Linked DNA regions of Homo sapiens. The protein of the gene in region 2 interacts with the protein of the main gene of each other region in a pairwise test. Each region holds a gene or a part of one and is shown on either strand. Other genes may lie near its edges.

Region 1 (7,025 bases), about 21 Mb from region 2:
TGCCTGCTGGGTTCAAGCAATTCTCCTGCCTCAGCCTCCCAAGTAGCTGGGACTGCAGGCGCCCGCCACCACACCCGGCTAATGCTTTTTGTATTTTTATTAGAGATGGGGTTTCACCATGCTGGCCAGGCTGGTCTTCAACTCCTGACCTCGTGATCCACCCGCCTTGGCCTCCCAAAGTGCTGAGATTACAGGCGTGAGCCACCGCGCCCGGCCTAATTTTTTCTATTATTAGTAGACATGCGGTTTCACCACATTGGCCAGGCTGGTCTTGAACTCCTGATCTCAAGTGATCCACCTGCCTCAGCCTCCCAAAGTGTTGGGATTACAGGCATGAGACAGCATGCCCGGCTTTTGCTTTTTTTTTTTTTTTTTGAAACAGGGTCTCACTCCTGTTGCCCAGCCTGAAGTGCAGGGGAGCGATCACAGCTAACTGCACCCTCAACTTTCTGGGTTCAGGCGATCCTCCCACCTCTGCCTCCCAAGTAGCTATGACTACAGCCACATGCCACCACACCAGGCTAATTTTTGTAGAGACACGGTTTCGCCATGTTGCCCAGGCTGGTCTCAAACTCCTGAGCTCAAGGGATCCACCCTCCTTGGTTTCCCAAAGTGCAGGGACTACAGGCGTGAGCCACCATGCCCAGCCAGAAGCCTGCTCTTTACCACAGCTCTAAAGAGTGCCTGGGTGAGGGAGTTGGTACCCAAGGCCCCAAACTAGGTGACCTGGACACTCACCTCAGAGTAGGTTCTCTTGACCCCCTGTCGGGGCAGTGGCTGGGCCTGGGGAGGCCCAGGATACCCATGTTGGGGCAGACGCTGCCCTGCATACAAGGGTGTCATTCCTGCTGCCCGGGTGGGGTTCATAGCCAAGGGGGAGAGGCCAGAGGGGCCCATTACCCCTCCTATGCCAGTAGGGTTCATGCCAGCGGGGACACTAGGCCCCCGGGGACCTCCATGCTGCAGAAACTGGCTGTTAAAAGACTGTCCGGCCCCCATCTAGGAAGAGAAAAAAGAAGAATGGTCCAGGTCCCACCCACAAAGGGCTCCAAAAGATAGGCATAAAACCCGCCCACCCACCCATGTGGGCACCATACCCTTTCACAGGACACCCCAGAAACCTCTCCCCTCAGACCCTCACTCCTTCCCACACATCTCTCTTTTACTGGCTTCATGAGCCCTGGCATATTCCATGCTTGTCCCTGGAGCCCACTGTCTGGCTGAGTACCTCCTCCCAGGCCCTCAGGCTGGCTGCCATGTGGGAGGAGCTGCTGAGGGGGCTCACCGCTCCATACTGGCTCAGCTCCTGGCTCTGCTTCTCCTGGAGAGCAGCCACGGTGGCTGTGGCTGTGGCGGTGGCAGTGGCTGCCGCAGCAGCCACAGCTGCAGCAGCTGCCGCTTGCGTGAAGTCAGTGGAGGGTCTTGCAGCATGTGAGGGGAGGCCCAGGCCCCCCGGGCCGCCTGCATACCTGCAGGAGACACAGGATTGCCACGCTCTCTGCGTGGGCTCATGAGGGCCAGGACTGTGCTCACCCCAGAGGCATGCAGCACCCAGGGGGAGCCCATTCTTTCTAGACCCTCCACTACAGCTGTCAGGAAGCAGAGAGGGAACGTCCAGCTGATCAGCGCCACAGTTCTGAGGTGCCTGCCAGATTGATGGCTCCTAGCATACCTGCCAGGTGAGGGAACTTGCTTACCCGGTGGTGAAGCCGGGGGCCCCAGGGTAGCCCCCGCGGCTGTACACGCCTTGCTGCACGTAGCCCTTGTTGGCGCCGCCTTCAGCAAACGCCTGCTGTCCCAGGCACTGTGGGGAGGTCAAGGCGGAGCTGCCCCCTGCCACACCAGGCATCATGGAGCTGCCAGAGGGACTCCCTGCAGGGCCCATGGGGTTCCCCAAAACCTATGAGGAAGCAGGAATCACCAAAGGGAACCAGCCAAACAACGTGCTTCATGCAGCAGCTCCAAAGTGCTAGAAACCAACAGGCCTGGCAAGTGGGTTGGGGGAGAGGTGGGGGGGACAGGGTATAGCACGGGAAGCAGGGAAAGCAGCTGTCCACAGGGAGGTTGGGGCATTTTGTGAAGGCTAGGTGAAGACAGGAGAAGAAAATCCCACAGCAGGTGTGGAAAGAGAACCAGTGTCCAAAGACTTAGGGGACTCAGGAGGCCCCATCCTCATATGTCATGCCTCAGCCTCTCTGTCCTCACCTCTCAGCCTCTTCGTCTCTCAGAGCTCTGAGGAGGCACTAAGCACTGCCAAGTGCTGGGAGGCTCTGTCTGCTCGGGGGTGGGGCACCAGTGGGTGCTTACCTGGCTCTGTGTCGCGTTGCCAACTCCCCACACAGTAGTGACCACAGACAGCGATCCAGCCGGCTGAGTGGCGCTTTGTTGCCAAGGCACAGACTCATATGCGAATGAACCATCACTGCAGGGAAAGAGGCTGCTGAGGCCTGGGTCAGGAAGCCACTGGTGTCCAAGAGTCTAGGATCTTCCAGAAATGCCACCCCCAACCCCAGGGCCTGAGGGGTGGGCAGAGGAGCCCACACTCACCCGTGTGGCGCAGGGGGCAGGGCAGGTTTCATGGGGTTCATGGAGTTCATTGGCAATGGAGCAGCCTACAGGCCGGGTCTGACAGTTTTTATCTGGAACTCAGCTGCTCTGGCTGCCCGACAGGAAGGAAGGGATGTTAGCTGCGATGCAGCCAGGAGACCCTTTCAGCAGGGTGGAGGGACCCCGGTGCCAGCAGGCCCCACCTCTTTCTCAATAAGGGACCCCTGGGCTCTGATGGCAGGCAAGGCAGTGGAGGGGCCTAGTACTGACCCACCCCACTCACTCTGGTGAGGATCTGCCCCCACAAATACAGCCTGGAGGCCAGCATGAACCCTTTCTGACCAGGCCCTGCCACCCAGAGTCCCTGGATCAGCCCTAGAGATGGACTTCCCGATTCCAAATACTTTCCCCACTCTCCCGCCCACACCGAGGCCTGGCTATCCTTATAAAGCCAGGGACAATCCTAGCTACCCCGTGGAAACTGGGGTTTAGAGAGGAGCCAGTAGCCAGTAACCCCACAGAAGGCCCTGGGGTGAAGGACAGAGGGCAGTGGAGGTGAGGGGACTCCCTGCTAAAGGTCTTGTCTACCCTGAGTAGCCCAGGTAGGGGCATAGGCGGTTCTGGAGGCCAGGGGCTGAGAAAGCCGAGGAGGAGAGTGCAGGGGTGCGGTGATCACAGGAGTGCAGTGGTCAACCAACAACTCTCCATCCTGGCCTTGGGGAGGGACATGCAGGATACCTCCTGAAATGGGGTGTGGGGCCAGTAACCTGGGCTCTGGCTAGCAGCCCCTCCCAACAAGAAGGCCCTCTTTAGGGTAGTAGAAGGGCTCCAGGCCAGGGCACCTCAGAACTGACCCAGATTCCACCAAGTGGGGGCTGCCCGAGGCTGATATGGTCCTAGGGGCCAGGCAGGCAGACCCACTGGCCCATCCATGACACCCCCAGGAGAGGGCAGGGACACACAGCACAATAGATGGAGGGTGGGCACCCACAGACCTGGCAGGGACTGTGACTTGGCCAGTGTTTCTAAGAAAGGGGCTGGGGAGACATTGAAGTGACTCTGCAAGATGGGGCTGAGTGGATACCAGTGACCTGGTGCTCAGGACAGGGCAGCAGAGGGGGTGTGTCAGGGAGGACGCATGCAGGACCACAGTGCTGGCACCATGGGACTTACATGTGCCACGCTAAGTTTGCTCTCCCCATTTAGTAAATAAGCCACGGAAGTGACCACACCTTCAGGCTGCTTCTGAGTGCCACGCCTTCCGACACTGCCACAAGCAAGCCCCTTACCAAAGCAGGCCCAGACATGCCCTGGAGCCCTGCCCCTGAGTGTCCCTGAAGGGCCCTCACTGGCACTACCCTGGGTTCTGACACTCCCAGGACCACCTGACATGTCCACCTCTGCCTGCCTAGGCTATCCACAGAGGAACACTGGCTGCAGCACAGGAGAGGCCGCTTCAGCTGTTTCTCAGGAGTCCCCAGGCATGCTCGCCTTGGATACTACTCCCTTTTAGGGCCTACAAGGCTGCCACACACACAGACATGCCACCTGAGGCGTGCTGACCACTGGTGCCATCCTGCCATCGCAGCACTCACATGGCCTCTCCCTGCCCCAGGAGAGGGTGGCCCCGCATTCATCTAGGCTGCCATTTCTTGTGCTGACCGAGGGCCTCACCAATGGAGGTAGGAACAGCCTCACCCCTCAAAATATAGACCTGGAGATTCTGAGGGCGAGCTGTGTGCCCAGGGCCCCAGAGCAGGTGAGAAGTAGAGCTGAGCTCTGCCTGGGGAGTCTAAGCATGTGGCCTTTCACTGGATCTTCCCATCACCGAGCACTGGGACTGGGGGGTACCAATTAGGGAAGAGGGAGAGGGCAGTGTTCTGGACTTCCTCACACCCTCAGGGGAGGCAAGACTTGATTCCCAGCCCATAGGCTCCTCCCCTTGCTCCCCCAGACCAAGTCCTGCCCAGGAAGCAGGGGTGAAGAAAACCAGGGGCTGATGGCTCCAGAAGGCTCCAGGCACCTGGACTCTAGGCAAGAACAGGCCTGGGAGCTGAGATGGCCCAGCCAGGCAAGGTAGGGGTGGCAATCCCAGTCCCATAGCCTGACTCAGGAATAGTGATGTTGGGGGACAGAGGAACCTGCCAACAGCCAGAAACTCCTCCCCAGAACTGCTGGGTGGGGCCTTGAGCAGCCATACACAGATTTTAGGACTTAGAATATAGATATGGTAATCAAAACTGTGTGGTACCAACATGGGAACAGAACCATGGGCCAACAGGCGAGACCAGAGAATCTGAAATTGATTTGCACAAATAGGCCCAAACAATGTCTGACAAAGGTGCGAGAGCAATTCAAAGGAGGAAGGACAGCCTTTCCAACCAATGGTGCTGGGACAATGGAGCAACTGGGCATCAAAACAACAAACAAAAAACACCTAAACTTCACACCTTATACAGAAAGTAACTCAAAATGGTTTATAGATTTAACTGTAAAACATAAATCTATAAAATATTCAGGAAAATATATAGGAGAAAATCTTTGTGATCTAGGCCAAAGAGCTCTTAGACCTGATACCAAAGGCATGATCCATAAAAGAAAAAAACTGATAAACTGGACTTCATCAAAATTAAAATTTTTCCTTCGGGAAAGGCCCTGCTAAGAGGATGAAAAGATAAGTTACAGGCCAGGAGAAATATTTGCAAGCTGCATATCCAACAAAGGACTAGTATCTAGAACATATAAAGAATTCTCAGCCAGGCACAGTGGCTCACACTTATAATCCCAGCACTTTGGGAGGCCGAGGCAGGAGGACTGCTTGAGCCCAGGAGTTCAAGATCAGTCTGGGCAACAGAGTGAGACCCCCGACTCCTCAAGAAATTTAAAAATTAGCTGGGCGTGGTGGCATGCACCTGTGGTCCCAGCTTTTCAGGAGGCTGCAGTGGAGGGATCACTTGACCCCAGAAGGTGGAGGCTGGGGTGAGACATGATCATGCCACTGTACTCTAGCCTGGATGACAGAGTGAACCATGATTTAAAAAACAAAACAAAACAAAAAAAGAATTCTCAAAACTAAAAAAAAAAAAAATTAAAATTAAAAACTCCAATTAGAAAATAAGCAAAAAACATAAAGAGACACTTTGCCAAAGAGAATATACAGATGGCAAATAAGCATAAGAAAAGATGCTCAGCATCACTAGTCAGTGGGGAAATGCAAATTAAAACCACAGTGAGATATCACTATACATCCATCAGAATGGCTAAAATAAAAAATAGTGACATCACTAAATGCTGGCAAGGAGAAACTGGATCTCTCACACATTACTAGTGGGAATGTAAAATGTACAGCCACTCTGGGAAACAGTCTGGCCGTATCATATGGAACTAAGCAAGCAGCTACCCTACTATGACCCAGCAACTGCACTTGTACGCATTTATCTCAGAGAAATGAAAACTTATGTTCACATAAAAACCTGTACACAAATGTTTATAACTGCTTTATTTGCAAGAGCTATGGAATGGAAACAGCCCAGATGTCCTTCAATGGATGAAGAGTTAAATCAACGGTGGTACATCCATAGCCCGGATGCAATATAAAGGAATGAACTACTGATATATGCAACAACCTGGATGAATCTCCAGAGAATTAATGCTCGGTGGAAAAAGCCAATCCCAAGAGGCTACACGGTGTACGATTCCTTTATTTAGCATTCTTGACACACCAAAATTAGGGAAATGGAGAACAGATTGGTGATTGCCAGGGGTTAAATGTGGGGGTAAAGAGAAAGGTACTAATCTCTTCTCCATTTCTGTAATTTTGGCAGGAGGAAGGTGGGCGTGAATATAAGAAGGCAACAGGCTGGGCACGGTGGCTCACGCCTGTAATCCCAGCACTTTGGGAGGCTGAAGTGGGCAGATCATTTGAGGTCAGGAGTTCGAGACCAGCCTGGCCAACATGGTGAAACCCCAACTCTACTAAAAACATAAGAATTAGCTGGGCAAAAACTAACCGGGCGTAGTGGTGGGCGCCTGTAATCCCAGCTACTCAGGAGGCTGAGGCAGGAGAATCATTTGAACCCAGGAGGTGGAGGTTGCAGTGAGCCGATCGCACCATTGCACTCCAGCCTGGGCAGCAAGAGTGAAACTCCATCTCAAAAAAAAAAAATAGAAGGCAACAGGCTGTAACCTCTTTACTGTATCAGTGTAGTGTCCTGGTGCAATGTTGTACTAGTTTTCCAAGATGTTACCATTGGGGCAAACTGGGTAAAGGACAGAATAAATCTCTCTGTGTCATTTCTTATAATGCACATGAATCTTTAATTTTTTTTTTTTCTTTTTGAGATGGAATCTTGCTCTTTCACCGAGGCTGGAGTGCAGTGGCACGATCTAGGCTCACTGCAACCTCCACCTCCCAGGTTCAAGCGATTCTCCTGCCTCAGCCTCCTGAGTAACTGGACTACAGGTGTACACCACCATAG
Region 2 (7,025 bases):
ATCATTATCAAATTATTGAAGACCAAAGACTTGAAAATCTTTTTTGAAATTTATTTAAATTTTTTTTTTTTTTTGAGACGGAGTCTCGCTCTGTCCCCCAGGCCGGAGTGCAGTGGCGCATCTTGGCTCACTGCAAGCTCTGCCTCCCGGGTTCACGCCATTCTCCTATCTCAGCCTCCCGAGTAGCTGGGACTACAGGCGCCCGCCACCATGCCCAGCTGATTTTTTTTTTTTTTTTTTTTTTTAGTAGAGACGAGGTTTCACCGTGTTAGCCAGGATGGTCTCGATCTCCTGACCTCGTGATCTGCCAGCCTCGGCCTCCCAAAGTGCTGGGATTACAGGCGTGAGCCACCGCGCCCAGGCTAGTGAAGTGAAGCAGTAGGAGTAGAGGGGGATAAAAAAAATCTTAACAGCAGCCAGAGGAAAATGACACATTAGGGTTAGAGTGATAGCGGATTAAAATTTTTTTTTAATTAATTATTTTTCAAAATATAGAGATGGAGTCTCACAATGATGCCCAAGCTGGTCTCAAACTCCTGGCCTCAAGTGATCTTCCCGCCTCAGCCTCCCAAAGTGCTGAGATAATAGGCATGAGCCACTGCATCCAGCCTGATCACAGATTTCTAATCAAAAACTGTGACAGCCAGAAGTCACTGAAATGACATCTTAAAAGTTCTGAAGGAAAAGATCAATCAACCCAGTGAAATTATCCTTCAGGAATGAAAGGAAATAATGACATTCTCAGCTAAATGAAAATAAGAGAATTTGTAGCCAAGAGACCTGTTCTCAGAAAAGTGCCAAAGGCAGTTCTTCCTGGTGAAGTAAATGATAAAAAGGACGCAGGGCACTTCAGGAATAGAGAGGAAAAGAAATGATGACAAAAAGACTATTTTTGTTCTCTTAAGTTCTTTAAAATATGTAAGAATACAGAAAGTCAATGTAAAAACACTACTAATAGTATGCAGATTATATGTTTCAATGTATGTAGATTATATGTTATAAATACAACCATAACACAAAAAGAAGGTAAAGAGACTTATATACACCAACTGGTAAAATATTAACTCTGGACTATAAATGGTCAGGCATGCATATTATTAACCCTACTAGTAACCTAGTAGGGATCCCTTCAGTAACTACTAAAAACAAAAATAAACAAAAAGATACAGCCAAAAGGCTACAAATCTTTTTAGCTTTATAGATATAGAAAAAGCAAGTGACAACATTCAACATCCAATCTCAGCAATCTGAACTTCCTAAACCTGGTAAAAGACATTCATGGAAAACCTAAACTAGCATCATACTTAATGGTGAAGGACTGACTGTTTTCCCTTAATATCAGGGACAAGATGAGGATGTCTGCTCTCACCACTCCTACTCAACATCATCCTGGAGGCCCCAGCCAGGGCAATGAAATAAGAAAAAGAAGGAAAAGCCATACAGATGAGAAAGAAGTAAAACTCTGTTTGCAAATACCACGACTTTCTGCACAGAAAATCCTAAAGAATACACTAAAAAAGTTCCTAGAACTAATAAGTGGATTTATCAAGGCTGGAGGGCATAAGATCAATATAAAGTCAGCTGTACTTCTATATCAGCAATCAACAACTAGAAATGAGCACCATTTACAATAGCACGCAAAATTATGAAATAGGTATAAATCTAAAAAAATTTGTGCAGAACCTGTATGCTACACTGTTTTCATGGACTAGAAGGTTCAGTATTGGCGGGTTGTTTTTTTTTAACCTTTGACTGATCTTAAATTATTATTATTATTAAATTTTTTTTTGAGACAGTCTCGCTCTGTCGCCAGGCTGGAGTGCAGTGGCGCAATCTCGGCTCACTGCAACCTCCATCTCCCAGGTTCAAGTGATTCTCCTGCCTCAGCCTCCCGAGTAGCTGGGACTACAGGCGCCCCCGTCACCACACCCGGCTAATTTTTTGTATTTTTAGTAGAGACGGGGTTTCACCATGTTGGCCAGGATGGTCTTGAACTCCTGACCTCGTGATCCACCTGCCTCAGCCTCCCAAAGTGCTGGGATTATAGGTGTGAGCCACCGTGCCCGTCCGATCTTGAATTATTAATATTGTCAAGATGTCAATTCTCCCCCAAAACTGACCTATAGATGTAAGGCAATCCCAATCAGAATCTCAGCAGGATTTGTTCCAGATATCAACAAGTCAATTCAAAAATGTATACATAGGCCAGGCACGGTGGCTCACACCTGAAATGCTAGCACTTTGGGCAGCCAAAGCAGGAGGATCACCTGAGGTCAGGAGTTCAAGACCAGCCTGGCCAATAGAGTGAAACCCCATCTCTACTAAAAATACAAAATTGGCCAGGCACGGTGACTCACACCTGTAATCCCAGAACTTTGAGAGGTCGAGGTGGATGGATCACCTGAGGTTGGGAGTTCGAGACCAGCCTGATCAACATGGAGAAACCACGTCTCTACTAAAAATACAAAACTAGCCAGGTGTGGTGGCAGATGCCTGTAATCCCAGCTACTGTGGAGGCTGAGGCAGGAGGAATCACTTGAACCCGAAGGCAGAGGTTGCGGTGAGCCGAGATTGCACCATTGCACTCCAGCATGAACTCACAAGAGTGAAACTCCATCTCAAAAAAAAACAAACCAATAAAAAAAAAACGGGCTAGTTTTCTTCTCATGTAAACTCTTGATGTATGACGTTTTCAATTTTAAAAGGTTGAACTCATTCCAGACCAAGAAAAGGAACTGGAAACTACAAGAACTCACAGAAGATGATCAAGCCACTTTTGCCTCAAGCAAACACAAATGTCAAAAGACTTCACTGATCAACTTTATAAAAAGTACTTTAACTTGTCAACCCTACTTTTCATCCAATTTGGTCTGAATTCTGGGAGTGGGGTTGATGCGATATGTCATACAAACTGGGACTCCAAGAAAAGATTTTTTTTTTTTTTTGAGACAGAGTTTTGCTCTTGTTGTCCAGGCTGGAGCGCAAGGGCGCGATCTTGGCTCACCGCAACCTCCGTCTCCCAGGTTCAAGCGATTCTCCTGCCTCAGCCTCCCTAGTAGTTGGGATTACAGGCATGTGCCAGCACGCCCAGCTAATTTTGTATTTTTAGTAGAGATGGGGTTTCTCCATGTTGGTCAGGCTGGTTAGAACTCCCAACCTCAGGTGATCCACCCACCTCAGCCTCCCAAAGTGCTGGGATTACAGGCATGAGCCGCCACACCTGGCCAAGAAAAGATTTTTAAACCCCATTAAGATTTGTTCCTCATGGCACATGTATACATATGTAACAAACTTGCACGTTGTGCACATGTACCCTAGAACTTAAAGTATAATTTTGAAAAAAAAGATAAATAAATAAAAAAAGAAGGAAGAAAGGTCTTCTGCATTTACCCATTCAAACCAGGGTTAGTACTTGATTAATATAATATTTCAATTCTGTCTTGTTTTTTCCCCATTTCTACATTATCACATTTCCTTCCTTTCAAAACAATTTAACTTATTTTACTAATATTTTGAGATCAGCTCGTGACATTTAATGTTCTCAATAATTAGAGAAGAATTACTTTGGTTAGCCTAGAATATACTCACTTGTGTTTCTAAATTAGTAAGCTCATTTTCATCTAGATAATGGGAGGCTAGAGAGGTCCTGCTTTAAGAGTAGAACTATTGGTTCTACCAATTTTGGCTTGGAGGCACTGCGTCTGTAAGAACCAAGTGGCCCTGATACTCAGCTCTTGGTGTGAAGTGCTTTGTAAGGTTTATCTGAATTGAATCATTAGGGAAGAAGCAGTGTTAATAACATAGAAATGGTTGGCCCTGTTCACATTAATGGTTAATAAATAAGGTTGCATCATTTATGGCTTCTGGAGTCCAAAAAGGACATCTACACATATTGTTTCCATGAAGACACCACCCTTCACCCTTTCCCCAGCCTTGTGAGTTTAGCAGATGATCCTTATTCAGTGGTAAGGATAATGAAACTCAGAGAGGTCAAATACCTTTTCCAAGGTCATGGTGCTATAAGGGGCAGAAACTGGACTACAGCCCAGGTTCCCCGATTCCAAGCTTGTTATGCTGTGGTCAGATGCTAGCAGTTGGGAGTTAGCAGATATAAATAAACTGTATTTTGGCCCATTTGATTGAGATCTCTACCTATGACCTAAATTTGCCTTCTTTTCCATGAAGCATTTCCATTTCCCCTCACCCGTCTTTTTTGAGAATGTAAATTAATCTCTGCTAATTTTGCAGAATAAGCAGGCAGAGTAATACAGTATCACTAGGATAAATGAACTTTCTTCATTTATAAAAAAAAAAAAAAAAAGATTTGTTCCTTACTCTAGTCCCTATGTCTAACTTTCAGTTGTTTCATCTCCAATACTATAATCCTTCTTTAAATCCAAACCCAGCCGAATATCAATACACGGTTGCTACGAATGTAGCAACTATCATTTCACCATGTGTCACGCTCTTCCTACTTAAGAGATTTACTTACTTGGTCAACTTGTGGCTTTTCAATGCTGTGAGAAATTCTCTGACAATTTCAGGACTCTGGTGCCTGCATGGTGTTTTTGATATGTATTTTAACGTCTGGCAAAAAAAAAAAAAAAGAAAAAAGCCAAGCATAAGACAAAGAACCCTGAATGAGAAAAAACAAAGGCAATGACTGTAATTAAAATTCTAAAATTTTGTTTGTAAAAATCCTGTAGAGGCTGGGCACGGTGGCTCACACCTGTAATCCCAGCACTTTGGGAGGCCGAGGTGGCCAAATCACCTGAGGTCAGGAGTTCGAGACCAGCCTGGCCACCATGGTGAAACCCCATCTCTACCAAAAATACAAAAAATTAGCTGGGTGTGGAGGTGCACGCCTGTAATCCCAGCTACTAGGGAGGCTGAGGCAGGAGAAACACTTGAACCTGGGAGGCAGAGGTTGCAGTGAGCCGAGATCACACCATGGCACTCCAGCCTGGGTGACAGAGTGAGACTCTGTCTCAAAAAAAAAAAAAAAAAAGAAAACAAAAAAGAAAAAAAATCCTGTATAAAACAAAAAGGCATTCAGGAGAACCAATCTTCGTGTAATTGGAATTTCTGAAAGAGAAAACCAGTAGCTAGAAGAGGAAGAATAACTAATGAAATTTTAGGAGAAAACTTTTCTGATCTCAAAAAAAAAAAACCCTCAATCTGACAATTGTGTTATATTTTGAACAATTTTTTTAAAGAGGGGGAACCCAAAGAATAAAATAAATTGCCATGAGTCTACATGGATATATACGACTGAATAGATAAACGGGTAAGAAGAGACAACTTTTTCTTTTTTTTTTTTTTTTTGAGACGGAGTCTCACTGTCACCCAGGCTGGAGTGCAGCGGCACGATCTCGGCTCACTGCAGGCTGGAGTGCAGCGGCACGATCTCGGCTCACTGCAAGCTCCGCCTCCTGGGTTCACACCATTCTCCTGCTTCAGCCTCCCAAGTAGCTGGGACTACAGGCGCCTGCCACCACGCCCGGCTAATTTCTTTTTGTATTTTTAGTAGAGACGAGGTTTCACCGTGTTAGCCAGGATGGTCTCGATCTCCTGACCTCGTGATCCACCCGCCTCGGCCTCCGAAAGTGCTGGGATTATAGGCATGAGACACCGCACCCGGCCAAGAATGAGAAAAATTTTTAAATCACTCTTAGGCAATTGTACCATAGTCATAACTACTGCAGGAAAGACCCACCAATAAATGCTAAAATTGATGGTTAAAAGCTTAAGCAAAGGGTAGGCTGTTTTCCTAGCCGCAAAGCATCTCCCACAAAATATTTTTTAATTACTGTGGTGGTTTTAACATACAACCACAAATTCTTCGATATCCCTCCCTTCAAGAGGTGAAGCTTAATCCCCCCGCCCCGCTTCCCCTTGAATATGGGCTAAACTTGGTAAGTCCTTTCATCTTATTTATTTATTTATTTATTTATTTGAGACAGAGTCTTGCTCTGTCGCCCAGGCTGGAGTGCAGTGGCGCAATCTCGGCTCACTGCAAGCTCCACCTCCCAGGTTCACGCCATTCTCCTGCCTCAGCCTCTCTGAGTAGCTGGGACTACAGGCGCCCGCCACTACGCCCGGCTAATTTTTTGTATTTTTTCTTTTTAGTAGAGATGGGGTTTCACCGTGGTCTCGATCTCCTGACCTTGTGATCCGCCTGCCTCGGCCTCCCAAAGTGCTGGGATTACAAGTGTGAGCCACCACGCCCAGCCAAATCCTTTCTAACATAATGTGGAAATGAAGAAACAGTAGATTTACAGTGGAGAAACCAGGCAGATACCATCTTAACGAAATGACCAAAGTTAACAACATCACCCATAAGAAACATCAATATCATGTACCCCCAGAAATCAGGACACGAGAAGGGGAGATTACCTCTGTGGTACTCTTCCTCAAAAGCCATAGGTTTTGTGTAATCATAATAAAACATCAGGCAATCACAAATCAACAGACATTCTACAAAATACTTGACGAGACTTTGGAAGTGTCAAGGTCATGGAAGACAAAGGAAGAGTAAGGATATAGATTGAATGACATTATGGGGACATGTTAACTAAATACAAAATGGTATCCTGAACTGAATCCTGGAACCCAGAAGACAGCAATGGGAAAACAGGGCATTCAAATAAAATTTAAGTTTAGCTTAATAGTATGTACCAATGTTAATTTCTTGGTTTTGATCACTGTACCATGGTTATGTAAGATATTAACATCAGAGAAAACTATGGGAAGGGTACATGAGAACTCCCAGCACTGTCTCTACAACTTTTATGTAAGAGAAAAATGGCTGGGCACGGTGGCTCACGCCTGTAATCCCAGCACTTTGGGAGCCAGAGGTGGGCGGATCACATGAGGTCGGGAGTTTGATACCCGCCTGACCAACATGGAGAAACCCTGTCTCTACTAAAAATACAAAATTAGCCGGGCAAGGTGGTGCATGCCTGTAATCCCAGCTACTCGGGAGGCTGAGGCAGGAGAATCGCTTGAACCCGGGAGCCAGAGGT
Region 3 (7,025 bases), on a different chromosome or scaffold from region 2:
CTGGGATTACAGATGTGAGCCACTGCACCCGGCCTGATCATTTTTTAATAACATTGTTCTCCTCCTCCTCCTTTAAGAGACAGGGTCTCACTGTGCTGCCCAGGCTGGCCTCAAACTCCTGGGCTCAAGCAGTCCTCCCCACTCAGACTCCTGAGTAGCTGGGACTACAAACACACCACCACGCTCAGCTAACTCCCCATCTCTTAATCCCTATCCCTACACCATTCCCAAACTTTCCCAAATCAAAGATTAACCAGACAGAGAAAATACACTTTTACAGTTTAAGAAATATTAAATGTGATAACTGTTCAGGATCTACTTTTTACACAATCTCAGTAACGTATGTACATAGTCCCAAAAAAAAAAAAAGCAGCATTTGCCTGGGAACACATCACTATAAGCAAACAAAACATCAAATGGCCTGAATTCTAAAATACCTTTGGATTATATAAAATTACATTGTAAAGTTACAAATGTTGCTCATTCTTGAGAAATGTTTGAATGTTTAAATAATGTTGCCATAATACATATTATTTCACGACATTAAAAAAAACAATGGTGAATACAAGGTATCATCATTTTAAGGGTAAAGAGATAAAGCAAGTACATATACAAATCCACTGGAAAAGCTAAGTTTGGAGCTGATTTCCTCTCTTGAATTGTAAAATTTCAGTAATACACAGTCACTATCTACTGCTGGAATAATGCCTGAGCAATTTAGGTAAAGATACAAACAATAACAAAAACCCTGCCCAAATATTCAAACTTGGAGAATTCTAGTTAAAATAATAGAAAAATATAAAATTTATCCTTCCAAAAAAAGGTATCTAAGACAAAGGTATAGATACCCCATGTAAATTATTCACAAGTCATATGTGAATCAACCTTTTCTGTATTCCTTAAAGTTGTACAATCGACTGATGAAAAAACAAGCTTCATATTCAAAGACACTTTCAGAACACACCTACAATTAACTTATTAATGCTGAAGTATATTTTAAAAAACAGCTATTTCACTGAAGTCTTTACAGGAGATTTTATTTTTGGTGCATCTTCTTACGCATTTCTTCAAGAGCTGCTTCTTTCTCTCTCAGCACCTGCTTAAGTCTTCTTATTTTTTCATCTCGAATGGTTTCTTCTAACTCCGGTGGTGTCACTGGGAAAATATCTTCGGTATAATTTTTATTGAAGAAATGACTTTGTTCATAAGCTGCATTTGAATTCAAAGTGCCTTTCTCTTGCTTCTCATGGGTATAGTATTCCATCTCAGTTCTCTTTTCTTGTCTGGTTTTGCTGTGACTCGTGAGAATGTTATGTTGTGACACATCTGAAGTTGGTAAAATACTGCTTAGGAGTTGGGAACCGGTGACATTAGCTTCCCCATTTATGATTGCGTTATAAGCATTCTCTGTTTTTCTCTTCTTTATGTGATCCATCTTCTTATTAGTTTTTGCTTTTCTTTTCTTATCAAAATTCTGCTGCAATATTGAATAACATTCCAAAACAAAAACGAAATGTTACTGCTAAATGCACCGGGTACTACCAAACTTAACAACGTCTGCAGAAACAAATATCTAGCTATTACAATTAACAAAATTTATGGAAGACAACTACAGCAAGAGGGAAATATTTCCCACTGTATGGTACCAAAATGTCTTAATCATATTCAGTAAGAAGAAATTGCCTAATTCACATTTTCTTGCTCAAGTCAAGTATTAGAAGGCATACTGACTCACCACAGAAATATAATAGCACTTGTAAAGTGCCTGAGATATAAAATTGATTGTTTTTTTCTTTTCCTTTGCACAGCAGGCACATATGGAGGATTTTCATTCGAAAAGGTTTACTAGTCTCTGATCTAAAGTTCAGAATATTACATGATAATGACATACTCATAAGTCAAAGTATAACAGTAGGCAAAGTTATAGACATTTCTTTTTATCATTATTAGCTATATAAGTTGCTTAAAAGGTTATTATTAAGAACATATGCATGCTTATATCTTCTACTACATTTGAATTATTTCCTTTAGATAGAGTCCTCAAAGTAGGATGACTAGTTAAAAAGCTATGGCCATTTTCTTGTAACATAATGGGAAAAAAATGTAGTAGGTGAATAAAAAAAATTAAAACATATCTTTAACTGGGATGCATTTTTACCTGTGCGTGTGTGTGTGTGGGGTGGGCGGTGTTTATATATATATAATTTTTTTTTTGAGACAGAGTTTCGTTCTGTTGCCAGACTGGAGTGCAGTGGTGCGATCTCAGCTCACTGCAACCTCTGCCTTCCGGGTTCAAGCGATTCTCCTGCCCTCAGCTTCCCAAGTAGTTGGGACTACAGGTGCGTGCTACCTCACCCAGCTAATTTTTTGTATTTTTAGTAGAGACGGGGTTTCACCATGTTGGCCAAGATGGTCTCGATCTCTTGACCTCGTGATCCGCCCGCCTCAGCCTCCCAAAGTGCTGGGATTACAGGCGTGAGCCACTGCACCTGGCCTGGTTCTTTTTTTTTTTTTTGAGATGGAGTCCTGCCCTGTCGCCTGGGCTGGAGTGCAATGGTGCGATCTCGGTTCACTACAAACTCCGCCTCCCGGGTTCAAGTGATTCTCCTGCCTCAGCCTCCTGAGTAGCTGGGATTACAGGCAACCACCACCAGGCCCAGCTAATTTTTGTATTTTTAGTAGAGACGGGGTTTCATCATGTTGGTCAGGCTGGTCTTGTATTCCTGACCTCAGGTGATCCACCCGCCTCAGCCTTCCAAAGTGCTGGGGCCTGGTTGTTTTAAATATCATTTTGGTATTATGTATTTGCAAAACCAGTAACAACCATCATTTATACTAATGCACAAGGGTTAAAACCAAATCAAGAAAAGTAATATTCATGTATCATTTGTAGTACCTATGAAGAGCACATTAAAATGTATTACCTACCTGTTTTCTCTCTCCTTCCTTCACCATAAACTCTGTCTCTTTGTAAGTACCACTCTTTACCAAACTGCTAAAGGAATCGAAACCTTCTCCAGAGGTCAAATGGTCAGGAATTCGAGTAAGGCACACTCTCAAATCCTTAGTAAGGCCAAATATCTTTTTAAATTCAGCATCACTCTTCAGATGTAATGCCTTATTACTTCTTCCTTGAGAATCTTTCTTGTCATTTCTTCCTTGGGCACCTTTATCTGATGTTGATGCCATCTCATTATGGATCTGGAATTAGGAAAAGAAAACACACAAACAATACTGCTAATTATTCAAGTTACTTTATTAAGCAACTAAGTGATTATTTCATCTTACATAAAAGAACATATCATGCTTTATGATTGGTTTGTATTATCCTTGCCTTACCACCCACACTCAAAAAACTGAATATAAGGAAGTACAAACTTAAAATATTCCCCCCTACAATTTCTCAATTAATTTGTTGCACTAGAAAGGTAATAAGTAGTCAATTCTAAAACAACTAAAATGAGAATACAGACTAATGACAACGTTAAAATAACATATATGACATTATTTAGAAATTGTAGTCTTCTGGAAAAGTCACACATGCCTTTAATCGATCTTGTATTGAACAATCAGAATTTACCTCCTTACATCTCTGGAGTTCAATGAATTCTGTACTGAAGGGGAGAAATGCTGACATTATTGAGTAGACCTCTAAGTAAGCAAGGAAAAGATGGGTACAAATATCTAGTAAGCACACAGACAGACAAACCTTAAGTCGAACATAAAGGTAACTATGTGGGCATGTTGGGTAACTGGCTGAGGAGTCACAAAGAGCTAATAAAAAGGAAAATGAAATTTGTCTACCAAAAAAAAAATCAACCCATCAAAGATGCTGATAAAATCTTATTTCCACAAATTACTGAAAGGTATTGATTAGCCCTGTCTCACCTTTTCCATGGTATACCACCACCACCACCACAAAAAAACCCCACAAAACCCCAAAACCAACTCTTTTACATGCATATTGATCTCCTCATATACTAAAAAGGCTATTATATATGAACATACATATATACATGTATGTATATACATATACTCACATATTTTTACTAAGCTTTGAATTCACATTATCCTTCCCCAACTCTTCTAAACCTTTTTGCTCTGTGAATTTTTTGTTTTAAAGATTTGGCATGCCAAGTGATTCAAGAGAAAGACTGTACTCCTTTGTACAAGATTGTACCCAACTGTACTCCTCCTCAAATTTGCTCAGATGGAAGTTTTGACTTAAATACTCATATGTGTATAGTCTGTGTGTGATGGGGTTGGCAGTGGGGGAAAGAGGTATCATAGATAACTTTGAGAATTAAGAAAACAAACTTTTCTATATAGATATATAAAAAGAGCACCCTGACATGGGAAAATTACCTTTGGTTCTTGGTCTCTGAAAACACACTGTTGTGAAGTAACAGTTGTTGCATCAACAGAGGAACTTATTTTCTCTATGCTCTGGAGGACACTTCCTTTTCTAGCATAAATGACGGCTGTTACTTTTCTGGGGGCATTGTGTCCTGTACTAAATCCAACTGGAAAGATTGGATTTGTGAATAAAGTCTTACTCTGTTTTAAGTAGTTACTGGATTGGTTCATATGTGGATTTGTGGTAGAAGGAGATGGTTTCTCCACTTTATTCTTCTCTGCCCTTAGATTGGCCATGGAAGCAAGCTGGGTATTGGAAAGTGATTTTGTCTCCATCTGGGAAGATTTACTTTTAGCCAAAACAATATTTACAACCTCTCTGGATATTTCTGTGACTGGACTTGAACTCACTGTCTGTAACGTGTCTTTTCTTACTGGAGTATCAGGAGAAACAGAATTCTGTTGGTCAATTTGTGATGGCAGAACATCTGTCCCCTTTTTAGCCAACAGATAGACTTTCCCATTAAACATAACCAAAGCATTATCTTTAATAGGCATATTTTTGGATCGCGTCCCACTAGGATCGATGGTACTCAATGGTGGCATATTTATAGTATTATCTCCCAAATTTTTCCTATCTACAAAAGTTTTTAAAATCTTTGAAGCCACATTATTTGAAGACTTAACAGGAACAAGAGATGGCGTAAAAGGCTGTAGATTATCTTGGAAAATCCATTTCACTGGAGCAGCTTGAGAATGCTGACCACCTTTCAATTGTGTCTCTGTAGCAACATTCTTTGGAATTTGTGTGGTATTTAGTATTACTGGCTTTGCTATTTCTGTAACAGGTTTTGGGTAAATGTTTTGAAAGTTCTTGGTAACTACATTTTTCACTGTATTTACAGGAGATACATAAATAACGGTTGGCATTTGGGAGGCCTCAACCATTCCTGAGGTACTGGTGGTGGCAGTTGCAAGTATCTTTTGCTGCACTGAAGGAGGCAATGATGACGCTGGTACAGATTTCACTTCAGCATGGGCTGGAATCTGTAAATGATGCCCAGAAGGCAAAACTGGAGACTTCACAGTCACTGGAAGACTCTGGGTATTAACTACAATAAAAGATGAGTCTTTTTGTGTTGAGGGAGGAACAGCAAATGTTTGCATGGTGAGTCCATCAATTTTCACACCATGACTCTGAACTTTAGAAACTGATGAAGAAAAATTTCCAGTTCCCACAGAAGTAACTCTACCTTTTTCTGATGTATCTACTGTTCTTGTAAGAAAATAGTTTGAAGAACTGGCTGGCTGAAAAATGGGCAATTGAACTGATGCACTTGTGGAAGAGCTGGAAATCTGAGTCTGAAAAGTAACTTGAACTGGTTTTCCTGTATTCCCTTTCAAAGCATCAGACATGACTGAAGATTGAACTAGTGGTATAAGATTTCCAGAAGACTTAGGAATTGGAAGTAATTGCAGAAGATTTTTTCCATCCGAGCCAATCGTCTGAACTACTTGGTACATGCAGCCTGAAACACTTAAAAGAACATTGAGTAAATAAATACAACATACTACATGGTATATACATTTTATTTAAAAATAAATATTTGTAAATATTTGTAAATATTAAAATAAAGTATATAATTTTCCATTTTGAGTTTTTAAAGTGAAAGACTGCAAAACAAATATTTTGAAGTAGAAGAGATAATGATATAGTCAACTGCTTATATGATTAGGCAATGGGTATGAGATAATAACATTTATTCCTAAGACTAAAAGTAGACATTTCTAAGGTTTTGCCCTATATAAAATTATACTACTAAAGTAAGCTCCTCTTAAAATATTAGCATCCTCCCTTCCCCCTTTCCCTGAATTCCTTCCTCTTGTCCTCCTCCTCTACTCTAACTGAAGATTCTCATTCCCTCTCCCCTTACTCTTATTCCATTTCTCTCTTTTCCCCCTCAATCTGTTCTGTCTTCTTCCTTCAATAACTCACAAGTTCTGCCAGCCATTCTTCTTTTGCCTAAGCTATCTCTCATGGTGTTACCTTAGTTTGCCACATTTTTGTGCTATAGATTTCACTGAACTGTTTACATAGGAATCATTTTCTTCTGATTACTGTTTCAGCACATTTGAGGTTTAGTGCTACATAGTCTCTGGTATAGCAATTATTTATATTAGTCAATTGTCAATCACCTATCAACCCATACATATAATACCACTGCAATTTCAGCTGAATGGTTTTCAATCAATGTGGAACAGACTGGAAATCAATTTTTTTTAACTGAATCAATTCTGACCCCCATGCCTTGAATTATTTCTTAGTATAGACTGTCTAATCTTAAGAAAAATCAATATATACTAATCTCTGTTTGCATAATTAGTTATTTGGAGATTACTTGAATGTAAATACCTTACCTTATTTATATCTAAAACATTTTTCAGCTCCTGGGAAATATTGAGCTTTCATGTCACACATACTATCACTCTACCTAGGTACGCCTCACCCAACTCAACTCTTCACATAGCTCAAGTCTTGGCATAAATGATATTTCTCAAGAGATACATTTTCTGACCACTTTATCCTTGTCTTTCCTTCATAATTAATCCATAACATTATGCTTGTTAGCTTCCTTCATGGTATATATCATAGATTGTCATCATATATT

What was found. Proteins that work in one complex are often made in the same cells at the same time.
Region 1: the proteins of CRCP (region 2) and ZMIZ2 interact in binary tests that used the Homo sapiens proteins (3 or more experiments, as listed by UniProt).
Region 3: the proteins of CRCP (region 2) and LRIF1 interact in binary tests that used the Homo sapiens proteins (3 or more experiments, as listed by UniProt).

The regions. Positions count from the first base shown.
Region 1 is NC_000007.14:44,751,822-44,758,846, reverse strand, and holds part of ZMIZ2 (zinc finger MIZ domain-containing protein 2), read right to left. Parts: intron 2,660-7,025; 5' UTR 2,598-2,659; coding exon 2,548-2,597; intron 2,423-2,547; coding exon 2,308-2,422; intron 1,901-2,307; coding exon 1,698-1,900; intron 1,470-1,697; coding exon 1,286-1,469; intron 1,000-1,285; coding exon 739-999; intron 1-738. UniProt on the Homo sapiens protein: Increases ligand-dependent transcriptional activity of AR and other nuclear hormone receptors.
Region 2 is NC_000007.14:66,131,842-66,138,866, reverse strand, and holds part of CRCP (DNA-directed RNA polymerase III subunit RPC9), read right to left. Parts: intron 4,588-7,025; coding exon 4,493-4,587; intron 1-4,492. UniProt on the Homo sapiens protein: DNA-dependent RNA polymerase catalyzes the transcription of DNA into RNA using the four ribonucleoside triphosphates as substrates.
Region 3 is NC_000001.11:110,946,923-110,953,947, forward strand, and holds the end of LRIF1 (ligand-dependent nuclear receptor-interacting factor 1), read right to left. Parts: intron 5,894-7,025; coding exon 4,366-5,893; intron 3,202-4,365; coding exon 2,929-3,201; intron 1,478-2,928; coding exon 1,037-1,477; 3' UTR 268-1,036; downstream 1-267. UniProt on the Homo sapiens protein: Together with SMCHD1, involved in chromosome X inactivation in females by promoting the compaction of heterochromatin.